Homo sapiens: one gene and its partners. The protein of the gene in region 2 purifies or fractionates together with the protein of the main gene of each other region. This does not show direct contact. Each region holds a gene or a part of one and is shown on either strand. Other genes may lie near its edges.

Region 1 (3,642 bases), on a different chromosome or scaffold from region 2:
TCTGACGCCAAAGGACTGTAGATGCCGCTCTGATTTTGTGTCCTAGGGCCGCACACCTCAGGCAGAGCCCTAACGGATGGGCTTTTGCGCACAACAGATGTCCTCCTGGGGCTGTTGGGAATTCTCAGAGGCTTCGTCTGCACAGAGGATCATGGTTTCCAAAGCCAGATATCCCTTTTTACAGATGAGGGACAGTGCTTGGAGAACAAGTGTCTTCAGAGGCAGTGTCTAGGGTCTCCTGAAATCGGGCTGCTAAGTCTTTTCTTGCCCTGTGGGTCTCCACCCCGTTCTCTGCCTTCGGGACAGACTGTGCTGCGGCAGAGAAGCTCGAGGCCGAGGCTGACCGCTAAAGCAGCATCTGAATGTGGCTTGTGCTTGCAGCCCAGAGAGGGCCTCCTGTGTGGGGCAGGTGGGATGCTGGCCCTGGAGGCAGGTTCCCGCCTTAAACGGCGGCTCCTGCCCAGAGCATCCTGCCCAGGGTAGCACTGGGGTCTGAGATCTGAGGACCCTGTCTGCCGGCTACCCATGCTCAGGAGGCATGTCCCACAAATCGTGTTCAGCACCCACCCCAGTCCTGCTCGGTGGACGTCCGTGCGGGGCAGGGAGAGTGAAGCACAGCTGGTCTGATACAAGCGTCTGGCTTCCTGCCAGGCTGCACCGCTTCCCAGCGGGTTGGCCTTGCAGGTAACAAGGCCAGAAGCCACTGCGAGGTTCCCTGGGGCAGTGCCAGCACTGGGGATTTGGGAAGGAGAGATGTCTGTCCCCCCGGAGGGGCAGCCAGGGTCTGCTGGTCTCTGCTGATGGGCCTGAGCGTATCTGAAAAGGACAGGTAGAAAGGGGGTGGCTGCAGCGTGCGCTGGCCGGACCCCAGGTGATGCTCTGCTGGGACCCAGAGGGGGTGGCTGCAGTGTGTGCTGGCCGGACCCCAGGTGATGCTCTGCTGGGACCCAGAGGGGGTGGCTGCAGTGTGTGCTGGCCGGACCCCAGGTGATGCTCTGCTGGGACCCAGAGGTTGTGGGGCTGGGAACCAGGTGGGGGTTCTTCAGACATTGTCTCTGAAGACACTTCAGAGTCCAGGCTCAGCATCTGTGGCTTTTGGGCCAGGGCCTTTTGCTCACCGCCAGGCAGCTGGGAGAGGCTCTGGGCCCAGCCATAAATGTCTGAGAGCACAGCTGCCTGGGAGCAGACTAGAGGGAGGAGGGCTGGTAACCTGAAATCACACCCTAGAGCTCTCCAGGGGCCTTGGCGAGGAGGGAAAGAGAGTGTTGAGACTGTAAGAGTGACTGTCAGAGACGTCCCCCAGAATCACGGGCTTTAGGTGCTGGGGGGTCCTCAGTGACCTTCCCGCCTGGCTCCCTGCGGGCAGCACGCCTCTGCTGAGAGGCTGCAGGGGCCAGGGCTGGGGGCTGGCACTGCCTCTGGTGGCGCTGACATCGTCCTGCTCAAGGCTTGGCAGCCGGCCCAGGAAAGCTTCTCTGCCCTCCCTGACAGGAGACCTGTGCACGCCCACCCCATGGCACGACTGGGGTCAGGACCAGCGCCTGCTGCTGCACCGAGACCCTGCCCTGTCCATGGCCACAGGCGTACCCTAGGCCGGCCTCAGAGGCGGGTCTGGCCAGGCTGGGTGGAGGGTGGGGGCTGACCGCAGACCTGGGGCTGCCACACCCATGGGGGAAGGGCTGTGGCGACGTGGGCGCCTCCTGTTGGCTGGGCCGACGCAGCCTCCCGCCCGGCTGCACAGGAGTTTCTTTAAGGAGTTTCCCCGGTGTGCCTCGGCAGCCTTGCGCTGCTCTAATGGTCCGGACTTCCGTGTGTGAGTTTCCCCCGTGCGCCCCGGCAGTCTTGCGCTGCTCCTAAGAGTTCTGGCTTGTGTGTGTAGCTAGACCCAGGGAGGCGGCCGTCTCCCGGACCGGGTGCTTGTCTGGGCTGGCTGGCCTGGCGGCTGCTCACAACAGCTTCCGGTGGGTTCCGGTCGGGTTGCATCGTGGAGCTTTCACCTACAAAAGGGGAAGGAGGCGGCCCAAGGGTCCGGGGCCTGGTCCTGCTGTGACCGGTGCCAGCTGCACTTCCTGGATGTGCCAACCGCTAAGACGCCCAGGCCAGGGTTGGGTCCAGACTCAAGCCCAGGTGGCAAGGAGTGGGACCCCCTGCCAAGGCTGTGAGGCCCCATAGGGGAGCCTGCCTGTGGAGCGGGCCCCCCTTGCCCTCTGCAGAGGCTCAAGGCCCCCGGGGACATGAGCCTGGTGTTTATCAGCTGTCTCCTTAGTCTCAGCTGACCTCCCCCGACCATGGCCCCATTGCACCACCCACCCCAAGCCAGGCCAGTTCCTCTCCCAGAAGTCCCGGCTGTCCAAGAAGAGGGCAGGGTGGGCTGCCCTCTTCTCGGCCAGCTTCAGATGGGGCCTCTGGTTGCACTGAGACAGGCCTCTTCCCCTGCTCAGAGCCGTCCCTGCTCCCCCAGCCCCTGAGCTGCCCTCCTAGACACTGCACAGAGAGCTCCTTCCTGTTCACAGGTTAGGACACCCAAGCTTGGAGGCATCTTAACTTGGATGTGGGTGGCCAGGACCCAGCTGGGTCTGTGAGTCCTGGCTGGGGCCGAGGTCTGTGCCTGCTGTGGCTGTGTGCCAACAGGGTTTGCAGAGGAAAGGAACCTGACATAGCGTCTTATTGCTCATTGTTCCTTTTTCTTATGAGTTCTGAGAAGTGGGCAGCAGTAGTGACATGAAAATGACCCCAGATGCACGCAGGCATCAGTGCAGAACCCGGCAGTGGCCCCTCTGAAGCACATCCTACAAGCCCCGTCGTTTCCTCGCCAGATGCTCGTGTCTGACTGACGCAGACGCTTCAAGACAAAACCACAATACCTTGCACGACTAGACAGCTCAGAATGGTTTCCAACGGCTCATTTTTATTTTTTACTTTTGTTTTTTTCTTGAGACAGAGTCTCCCTCTGTCACCCAGGTTGGAGTGCAGTGACAGGATCTCGGCTCACTGCAACCTCAGCCTCTCGGGTTCAAAGTGATTCTCCTGCCTCAGCCTCCCCAGTAGCTGGGATTACGGGTGTGCACCACCACGCCTGGCTAATTTGTGTATTTTTGGTAGAGATGGGGTTTCACCAGGATGGTCTATGTTGGCCAGGCTGGTCTCGAACTCCTGAGCTCAGGCAGTCCATCCACCTTGGCCCCCCAAAGTGCTGGGATTACAGGTGTGAGCCACCGCGCCTGGCCTGTTTGGGATATTTTAATGATTCTGCCTGGTGACACATCCATCCGCCAGGACATGCATGAGCCATTAACTTGGTAAACAGTCACTCCTGGCATTCCGTGGCTGAGAACATTCAGGAAGAGCCACATGGTGCAGCAGGGCCTGTGGCCAGTCTCAGGACAGCCTGCTGGTCCCTGGCCCCGCCTCGAGGGGCTCCGCGCAGGTCTCGCCGATGCTCTGTGGGTCTTGGCCGGTGCGTGCCTCTGGTGCTGCAGGCGCCTGGCTGTTTTCTTCCTTCCCTCAGGCTCCTGGGCCCCCGGCCTGAGCTCCTGGTTTCTGAGAGTCTGTGGGGAGCTGTGATGCCTCGGGGCAGCCCCCTCGTGTGGCTGCCCCAGCCTGTCCGGGTTTCTACCGTGGTTCCTTCCACACCATGTTTGT
Region 2 (3,642 bases):
CTTTTTTTGTCTAAGTCTGGTAGAAATTAGGAAAAGTTAAAAAAAAAAAAAAAAGGCACCCGAAAGATGTGTTAGAGACAAAGTACATTCGTGTGAACAGTTGCTTCCAGTAGTGCTTCTCAAAAGCTTACACTCTGGGATTTCTGGGGTCTCTCACACATTACTTTGTGTATGCGCAGATATATGTGCGTGCATGCATGCATGTGCACACACACACATGCATGCATGTGCACACACACAGGTCTCCTTTTGCACAGATGTCTCTACTACAAGAGGATTCAGTCAACACCACTCAAATCTAGTGCATCAAAGGATCGTGTAAGGAACTTATATTCATCGAGTGCTAAGATGTGACATGTACTGAATTTAGTAGTTTCCCTATAATAATGACAATCTTATGAGCTAGGTATTTTCCCCACTTTACAGATGAATAAATTAAGCCTCTCAAGAATTAGATAACTGCCTGTGACCACGGTTTTTCAATGAAATAATTGATATGAACCCAATTTGTATTACTCTAAAGTTCAAGCTTTCTCCCCTACCACGTTACTGAGCTGCGATTGTAGCCAGGCAGCTTGTTAGAAATGCAGAACCTGCTTGAGTCAGACAGGTTAGCGAGGCCCAGGGGCGGGGTGCACGTGTCTTGAAAGTTTGAGAAGTGCTGCTTTCTATCACTTTGTTTTGGAGTTTGGAATATCCTAATTTCCATGGCAGATCGGAGAGGGGTAAGCAGACAGTTTTAAGACAAGCCTCAGTCTGAAGGGCAGAGAAACTCACTGCTCCTGGATTGGGAGCAGTGAATCCTGGATTGGGAGCATGCCCCAATCCAGAAACTCACACAGCTCACCAGTTCACTAGATGATGTGCTGAGGATGACAGAAAGATGACGCACATTCTAAAATCACGTGTGCCAATTTGGTAGGAAAAATAAAGTGAACTGCTCTTGTCTAAAAGTCAAAGCAGAGTGGTTCATGTCAACCAACTGGGCCATTTATATGATATTATATAAAAGAGAAGTTAATTTATCCTCTGAGTAAATTTACCCAAAAGAAAAAAATGGGGAACTACTTAATAACACAATGAGGAAGGTAAGAACTCGGTCTCTATTTTGTAATGGGAAAGCTTCCTCTGGGCTCCCTAGTCACTCATTTGAATGGCAGAATCATGAATTCTTCACGTAGCCAGCTCAATCCCTCTTTCTTTCTTTTTTTTTTAAATGGAGTCTTGCTCTGTCACCCAGGCTGGAGTGCAGTGGCGCGATCTCGGCTCACTGCAACCTCTACCACTCGGGTTCAAGCCATTCTCCTGCCTCAGCCTCCTGAGTAGCTGGGACTACAGGCACGCACCACCAAACCCAGCTAATTTTTGTATTTTTAGTAGTGACGGGGTTTCACCACATTGGCCAGGATGGTCTCGATCTCTTGACCTCGTGATCTGCCTGCCTCGGCCTCCCAAAGTGCTGGGATTATAGGCATGAGCCACTGTGCCGGGCCTCAATCCCTCATTTTTAAGTTTATCTTACTTTACCCTTATTTAGCTCTCAGTGAAGACAAGCCCTGCAGTATAAAACTCTTAATCCACTAGAGCTGGCTTTTCCTTGGTGATGAAGGGGTAGAGATTGAGCCATGGGGATGCTTTAGGTTAAAGAATGCTTTTTTTTGGCCATCATGAGGATCTAACAACAGAGTAGAAGGAAGGATGCCCTAGGTCAGCACGCAGGGTGGTGGGAGGGCTTTCATCTTCCTTACCCAAGCCTCTCTTTTCACTTTTCTAGAAGTTCGGAAGTTGTTATATGATGAAATAGCCTCCTTTAACGTTTATTTCTGGGTGCCAAGGGAGGCCCATTCCTCTAACATTCTGATAATTCTTCTCAAAGGCCTATGATCTAAACATTTCACCATGGCATCCACTTAGCTGTGAGGCTGCATACACAGTCTCCACCTCTGAAATCTGAACTTCATTTACCAGTGGTGCTGTTTGAACTTCATAATGCCAGCACTTCCTGAACACTTACTGTGTGCCTGGCTTGTGTTCCTGAGTGCCTTATATCACAAGGAAACGGCAAAATCAGGGGACTGGTGTAAGTGGTGAAGCTGGGCTTGAATCTAAGCTTTGTCTTCAGAGCCAGTACCCCTAACCTCTCTTTCTGTAAAACATTACTTTTCAAAGAATGAAGTTGTAGCCAAATCTTGAAATTTTTCATTTACCCTAAGTGAGAACAAATAAAGCTTTCAGCAAAATAATAATAATAATAATAATCCACTATAGCTTTTGGTTCTCTAGGCCAAAGAAAGCTTTCACAATCATTTTTTCTGTTCTTTGGTCTCCTGGAAAGCTTTCAGTGGAAGCGATGTTTGGGACCTGGAGTATGACATAGTGGGATAAATTCAAGTTAAACTTGAATCTGAAGCCCAACTTGCCTCAGTTTCCTCACCAATAAATTAAGGGTCATAAGAGTATGTGCCTCATGAAACCGTTGGGAAATCTAAACTTGACCATCTACAAAGTGGCTGGCACAGAAACAAGTGCTCAACACATAGACATTACAGTGATCCAGGCCACATCCAACCAATGCAGAGACCAACAGAGCCTCTTCAGGATCGGGAACATCCAGTTAAAATTTTTTTTTTTTTTTTTTTGAGACAGAGTCTCGCTCTGTCTCCCAGGCTGGAGTGCAGTGGCAAGATCTCGGCCCACTGCAGCCTCAACCTCCTGAGTTCAAGCAATCCTCCCACCTCAGCCTCCCAAGTAGCTGGGACTACAGGGGCATGCCAGCACATCCAGCTAATTTTTTTTTGTCTTTTTTTGTAGACACAGGGTTTCACCATGTTACCTAGGCTGGTCTCAACTTCCTGGGGTCAAGTGATCTGCCCACCTCGACCTCCCAAAAGTGCTAGGACTACAGGCGTGAGCCACCACACCGGGCCCAAGAGTAAAATCTTTAACCAAAAACAGGCTTTTGAATAGCTTCTGATATGCATTACAAAATTTCTCTCCAATTCAGTTGTGCTGATTTCTAATGACAACTGTGATGGTTGAGATCTCCCAGGTAATACAAAGAACCACACTTACCAAAGAACCACCAGGCCCCAAGAGCCCTATGAAATAGCTCCTGGTGGGCCAGGCACGGTGGCTCACACCTGTAATCCCAGCAGTTTGGGAGGCTAAGGAGGGTGGATCATGAGGTCAGGGGATTGAGACCATCCTGGCTAACACGGTGAAACCCCATCTCTACTAAAAAATACAAAAAAAAAAAAAATTAGCCAGGCGTGATGGTGGGTGCCTATAGTCCCAGCTACTCGGGAGGCTGAGTCAGGAGAATGGTGTGAACCCAGGAGGCGGAGCTTGCAGTGAGCTGAGTTCGCACCACTGCACTCCAGCCTGGGCGACAGAGCGAGACTCTGTCTCAAAAAAAAAAAAAAGAAAGAAAGAAATAGCTCCTGGTGTCTCCATTTTGGGATGAGGCATCTGAGGCCTGAAGAGGTCAAGCAGCTTGCCCAAAGTCACCTACTAGCAGCCAGGATTTAAGCTGAGGTCAGTCTAACTGTGCACATAACGGCTAACCAGTCTCCTGAGCCTCAACAGATCCCTCCCTATAAGCCCAGCCAGATTAGCCTTTCCATGTTTCCCTCATATGTTAGC
Region 3 (4,264 bases), on a different chromosome or scaffold from region 2:
CAGCGTCCTCCTCTTGTTCTCCCTGCAGGCTCCAGGCTCCAGGCCCCTGGCCCGGTGGGCCTGGGCTCTGCACAGCCTCTGGCTGGAGACTAATGGCATTGGAGGAGGGGTCGAGAAGGCTCTGAAAGACAAGCCTGGTGTGGTTTTCCAGTCATCTCTGCGTCATCAAAACGCCACCCCGGAGCATGCTCTCAAGTCACCTGGCCATCTCCAGGGTTTGCTGGCTCACCCTCCACCTCCCCCAGCGAGCAAAGGGGTGGCCCCGCTGGGCAACAGACCTCTACCCAAATCCAGGCCCCTATTTGGCACTCCCTGGTGGAGGCGCGCCAGCAGATGTGGACCCCTTTTCTGAGGCCAGGCTGCTGGGGTCAGAGTGAGGCAAGAGCACCTCCCCCTCCCTAGAGCCTTAGTTCAAGAGGCCAGAAGACCCAGGGAGAAGCCGGCGTTTTGGGAGAAGGGGAGCTGCAGAGCTCCCCACCCAAGCAGGTCTGATTTGATTCTTCCCTCAGCTATGGACCCACAATCAATAGGGCTGGGGAAGACATGGGGTGGGGGAAGATCAGCGCTGCCGGGATCCTTTCAATCATCAGGAACAGCAACAGGTTTGCAGGGTCAGGCTGGGGACCCTCGCCCATTAACTCTTTCTTCTCCCTGTTTCTTTCTCTTAGGTGAGGGGAAACTGAGTTCCAGGGTAGGCTCCAGAGTGAAGAGGGAAGAAACATGATTCTCAAGGCCCAGGTCTGGACAAGTGTGAACACCTTGGGCCTGCGAATTCAGCCCCCTCCTTCCTTTCTCTGGTCAAAGGCTAGACTTGCAGGAGCTTGCGTTTGAAGGGACAGCCCAGAAGGCATCGTCTGCACTCCCCATACAGGTACTTCTGGGTCTGTGGGACTGGCGCAGGGTTCTTCTCCCAAAGCTGCCAGCACTGAGGCTGAGGCAGTGTCAGGCCGGCGGCAGCGGCAGTGGTGCAATCGTTCTGGGAAGCGATAGAGGCCGGCCTGAATTCTCTGTGGCAAGGGAGGGGAGCCCAAGTGGGAGGCCCCTTGGGGACACCGAGGACCAGGTCCGCTACTGCTCCTCCCCCAGGAGGTCCCCTAGGGGCTACATTGGCTGGCAGGGGCTGAGCAGCGGTGAGCCTGGCTGGCTTCGACCCGGGGCGACTCCGGGCATCCGGGACAGCTTCTCCTCGCTGCCACCTCGGCCAGTCAGACCCCGAGACACCTGTCACTACCCCCTCAGCCTTCCCAAGCCAGGAGCCTGGGAGTCCGGCTCTGGCCTACCTCCGGCAGCGCTCCTAGGCGCAGCTCCCGGGCTGGCGGCGCCGGGGCCCGCCCCCTAGGGCTGCGGCGCGCGGGGCGGGGGCTGGGGGCTGCGCGGGGCGGGGCGGGCCCGGGCGCTCCGGGCCCCCTCCCCCGCCCCCCTGACGTCAGCCCCCGGCAGCCTCGAGCTGCTCACTTGGCTCTCGCCCTCCGGCCGGGAAGCATGGGGCTTCCCAGGCTGGTCTGCGCCTTCTTGCTCGCCGCCTGCTGCTGCTGTCCTCGCGTCGCGGGTGAGTTCGCTCGCAGGGGGGCCGCGCCCCGGCTAGGGGTCTGCGGTGGAGCGTGCCAGGGAGCAGAGCCAGCGGCGCGGCGGGGTCGGGGCGTTGCGTCTGGGAGGACGAGCCTCCTCCCTGGGTCCCCGATCCCCGGGCGCCTTGCGCGCGAGCAACTCTTCTTTGCAGCCAGTTTGCAGCCGGGATTCTAGAGTATCCCGGGAGCAGCACTCGGAAGGCGGGGAGGAGGCTGCTTCTGGGAACGAGAAGGGGTGGAGCTCAGCCTTTCGGGGTGCTGGGGGGTGGGTGGTCCCTGAGGTGCTCACTCTGGGGGCCCGCAATTGAAGCCGGGCAGGAGGCGCAGCTGGGGCGCATCCTCAAAGCCTGAATTCCGCGCCCGCCTGTTGCTGGAAAAGGCAGCTTCCTTCGCTGGAGGGGGTGCGCCGACCCACCCCTTCCCCCTTCTGCCTGGGCATCACGCCAGGCTGGAGGTGAGCGAGAGCGGGAGGTTCGGCGGCTCCCGCCCGAGCTGGGCGTTGGCAGGGGTTGCGGGGCGGTGTGGGTCGCCTCGCGCCTCCCCGAGTGATGGGATCATAGGGGACAGAGATGAGGGATGGAGGATTCCCATACTGGAAGCGCCCGCTGGCTTATTTTGGGGACCACATTCAGGTGGGAAGTGCGCCCGGGCACCTCGGAGCGTTTCTCCGGATCCGCCTGGTAGCAGGGCGCTCTCGGGTCCACGCTGCCCTTGTATGGCCCGCAGCGGTGTCGCGTGTTTCTCTTGGCTCCCATTCCGCCGTCCCAGCCGCTGTCCGGCTGGGGAAGGGGAGGGCTAGGCAATACCCAGCTCGCTGGCCTCATGCCCAGTGCCAACCATGTCCCTGGGGTATTCCAGGCTACTGCCTCCCAGGCTGACTTTATTTCTGGGGAAAGGGCTAAATCGGGCTCCACAGTTGCAGCCGGTCCAGCTCCACCCTGCCCTGCTCTTCTAGCTCTGGGAGGAGTCAGGGGTCTGAGGCTCTGGGTTGGAGACCCCACCTTCCACCTGCCCTCCTTGTCCGAGAGCCAAGGTAACAACCCAGGCATCCCAGAGCCCAGGCAGATGGTGTCGAGTGACATCACCTCCTCACAGGGCTGGCAGCACGCTGGCACCACTGACGTCACTCCTGCCCACTGCCTGGCCCTTGCCCTGACCCCTGGGGGAGACTCTGACCTCTCCATCCTTACCAGCTACCTAGGGTGGGGTCCGCGGGTGTGTGCGGAGTGTTCATGGAGGTGCTGCTGAGGGAGCATGAGACCGGAACTTCCGCCAGAGTTAGCCCGCTGGGGAGTGAGGGCAGGGATTTTGGAGGGCAGAGGATAGAGCAGTGGTGTCTTCCCCTGGCGGTGGTGACACAAAAGGGCCTGTGTGCCCCAGCCTGGCACATGCTTTGCATTCCCACACTCTGAGCTCACCCGGAGAGGAGGGGGCCTGGAAGGAAAGGGGCCTTCCTCTTGGCCCCGAGCCTAGGTTGCCCCTTTCTGCCCCTCTACCAGCCTCAGCTGGAGCTGTTCGGTGCTCAGTCTCTGCTCAATCTCTGCTTGGCTCCAAGGACCTGGGATCTCCTGGACGGGGAGAGGGCTGGCCCAGGTGGGGCGCGGGTCGGGGTGGGGGTAGAGCGTTCAGAGGACAGGGCCCTCTGCAGACCCTCTGAGTGGCAGGAAAAACAGCTGCAGCAGCGCTGCGAGGGGAGGGGCGGACAGCAGCCGGAGCTGACACAGCTGCGGGGGCCCCGCCTCCCTCCCCCAGGTGTGCCCGGAGAGGCTGAGCAGCCTGCGCCTGAGCTGGTGGAGGTGGAAGTGGGCAGCACAGCCCTTCTGAAGTGCGGCCTCTCCCAGTCCCAAGGCAACCTCAGCCATGTCGACTGGTTTTCTGTGAGTGCTTGGGCTCCTGCAAGAGCAGCCCGGGGAGGGAGACTCTGCCCCTCTTGTAGCCCAGGACCCTTCTCCTCCTCTGTGTCTCCTCCCATTAGGTCCACAAGGAGAAGCGGACGCTCATCTTCCGTGTGCGCCAGGGCCAGGGCCAGAGCGAACCTGGGGAGTACGAGCAGCGGCTCAGCCTCCAGGACAGAGGGGCTACTCTGGCCCTGACTCAAGTCACCCCCCAAGACGAGCGCATCTTCTTGTGCCAGGGCAAGCGCCCTCGGTCCCAGGAGTACCGCATCCAGCTCCGCGTCTACAGTGCGTGACCCTGTGTCTGCCAGCAGGGTAGTGAGGGTGGTGGGACGTGGCCAGATGTCCCCCTCATTTCTATTTTCTTGTAGAAGCTCCGGAGGAGCCAAACATCCAGGTCAACCCCCTGGGCATCCCTGTGAACAGTAAGGAGCCTGAGGAGGTGAGATGTGTGGCAGGTGGGCTGGGCAGCTGGTGCGCAGCCGCTGAGATGGGGCTTGAAGGGGGCTCGGAGGCAGGGAGACTCACACCCTGTGCTCTTTAGGTCGCTACCTGTGTAGGGAGGAACGGGTACCCCATTCCTCAAGTCATCTGGTACAAGAATGGCCGGCCTCTGAAGGAGGAGAAGAACCGTGAGTAGCCCTTTCTCCCAAAAGCCACCCTTGGGCCAGGTGTGGTAGCTCACACCTGTAATCTCGGTGCTTTGGGAGGCCAAGGCAGGAGGATCTCTGGAGGTGAGGAGTTCAGGACCACCTTGGACAACATAGGGTGACCCTGTCTCTACAGAAAATAAAAAAATTA

The links.
Region 1: the proteins of HGSNAT (region 2) and TRABD purify together in Homo sapiens (affinity purification with mass spectrometry, with the first as the bait; one large-scale study listed by BioGRID). This does not show direct contact.
Region 3: the proteins of HGSNAT (region 2) and MCAM fractionate together in Homo sapiens (co-fractionation; one large-scale study listed by BioGRID). This does not show direct contact.

Annotation. Positions count from the first base shown.
Region 1 is NC_000022.11:50,188,836-50,192,477, forward strand, and holds part of TRABD (traB domain-containing protein), read left to right. Parts: intron 1-1,751; exon of another isoform or gene 1,752-1,961; intron 1,962-3,642.
Region 2 is NC_000008.11:43,143,322-43,146,963, reverse strand, and holds part of HGSNAT (heparan-alpha-glucosaminide N-acetyltransferase isoform 1 precursor), read right to left. Parts: intron 17-3,642; coding exon 1-16. UniProt on the Homo sapiens protein: Lysosomal acetyltransferase that acetylates the non-reducing terminal alpha-glucosamine residue of intralysosomal heparin or heparan sulfate, converting it into a substrate for luminal alpha-N-acetyl glucosaminidase.
Region 3 is NC_000011.10:119,314,320-119,318,583, reverse strand, and holds the start of MCAM (cell surface glycoprotein MUC18 precursor), read left to right. Parts: upstream 1-1,453; 5' UTR 1,454-1,482; coding exon 1,483-1,549; intron 1,550-3,320; coding exon 3,321-3,445; intron 3,446-3,543; coding exon 3,544-3,751; intron 3,752-3,834; coding exon 3,835-3,905; intron 3,906-4,007; coding exon 4,008-4,095; intron 4,096-4,264. UniProt on the Homo sapiens protein: Plays a role in cell adhesion, and in cohesion of the endothelial monolayer at intercellular junctions in vascular tissue.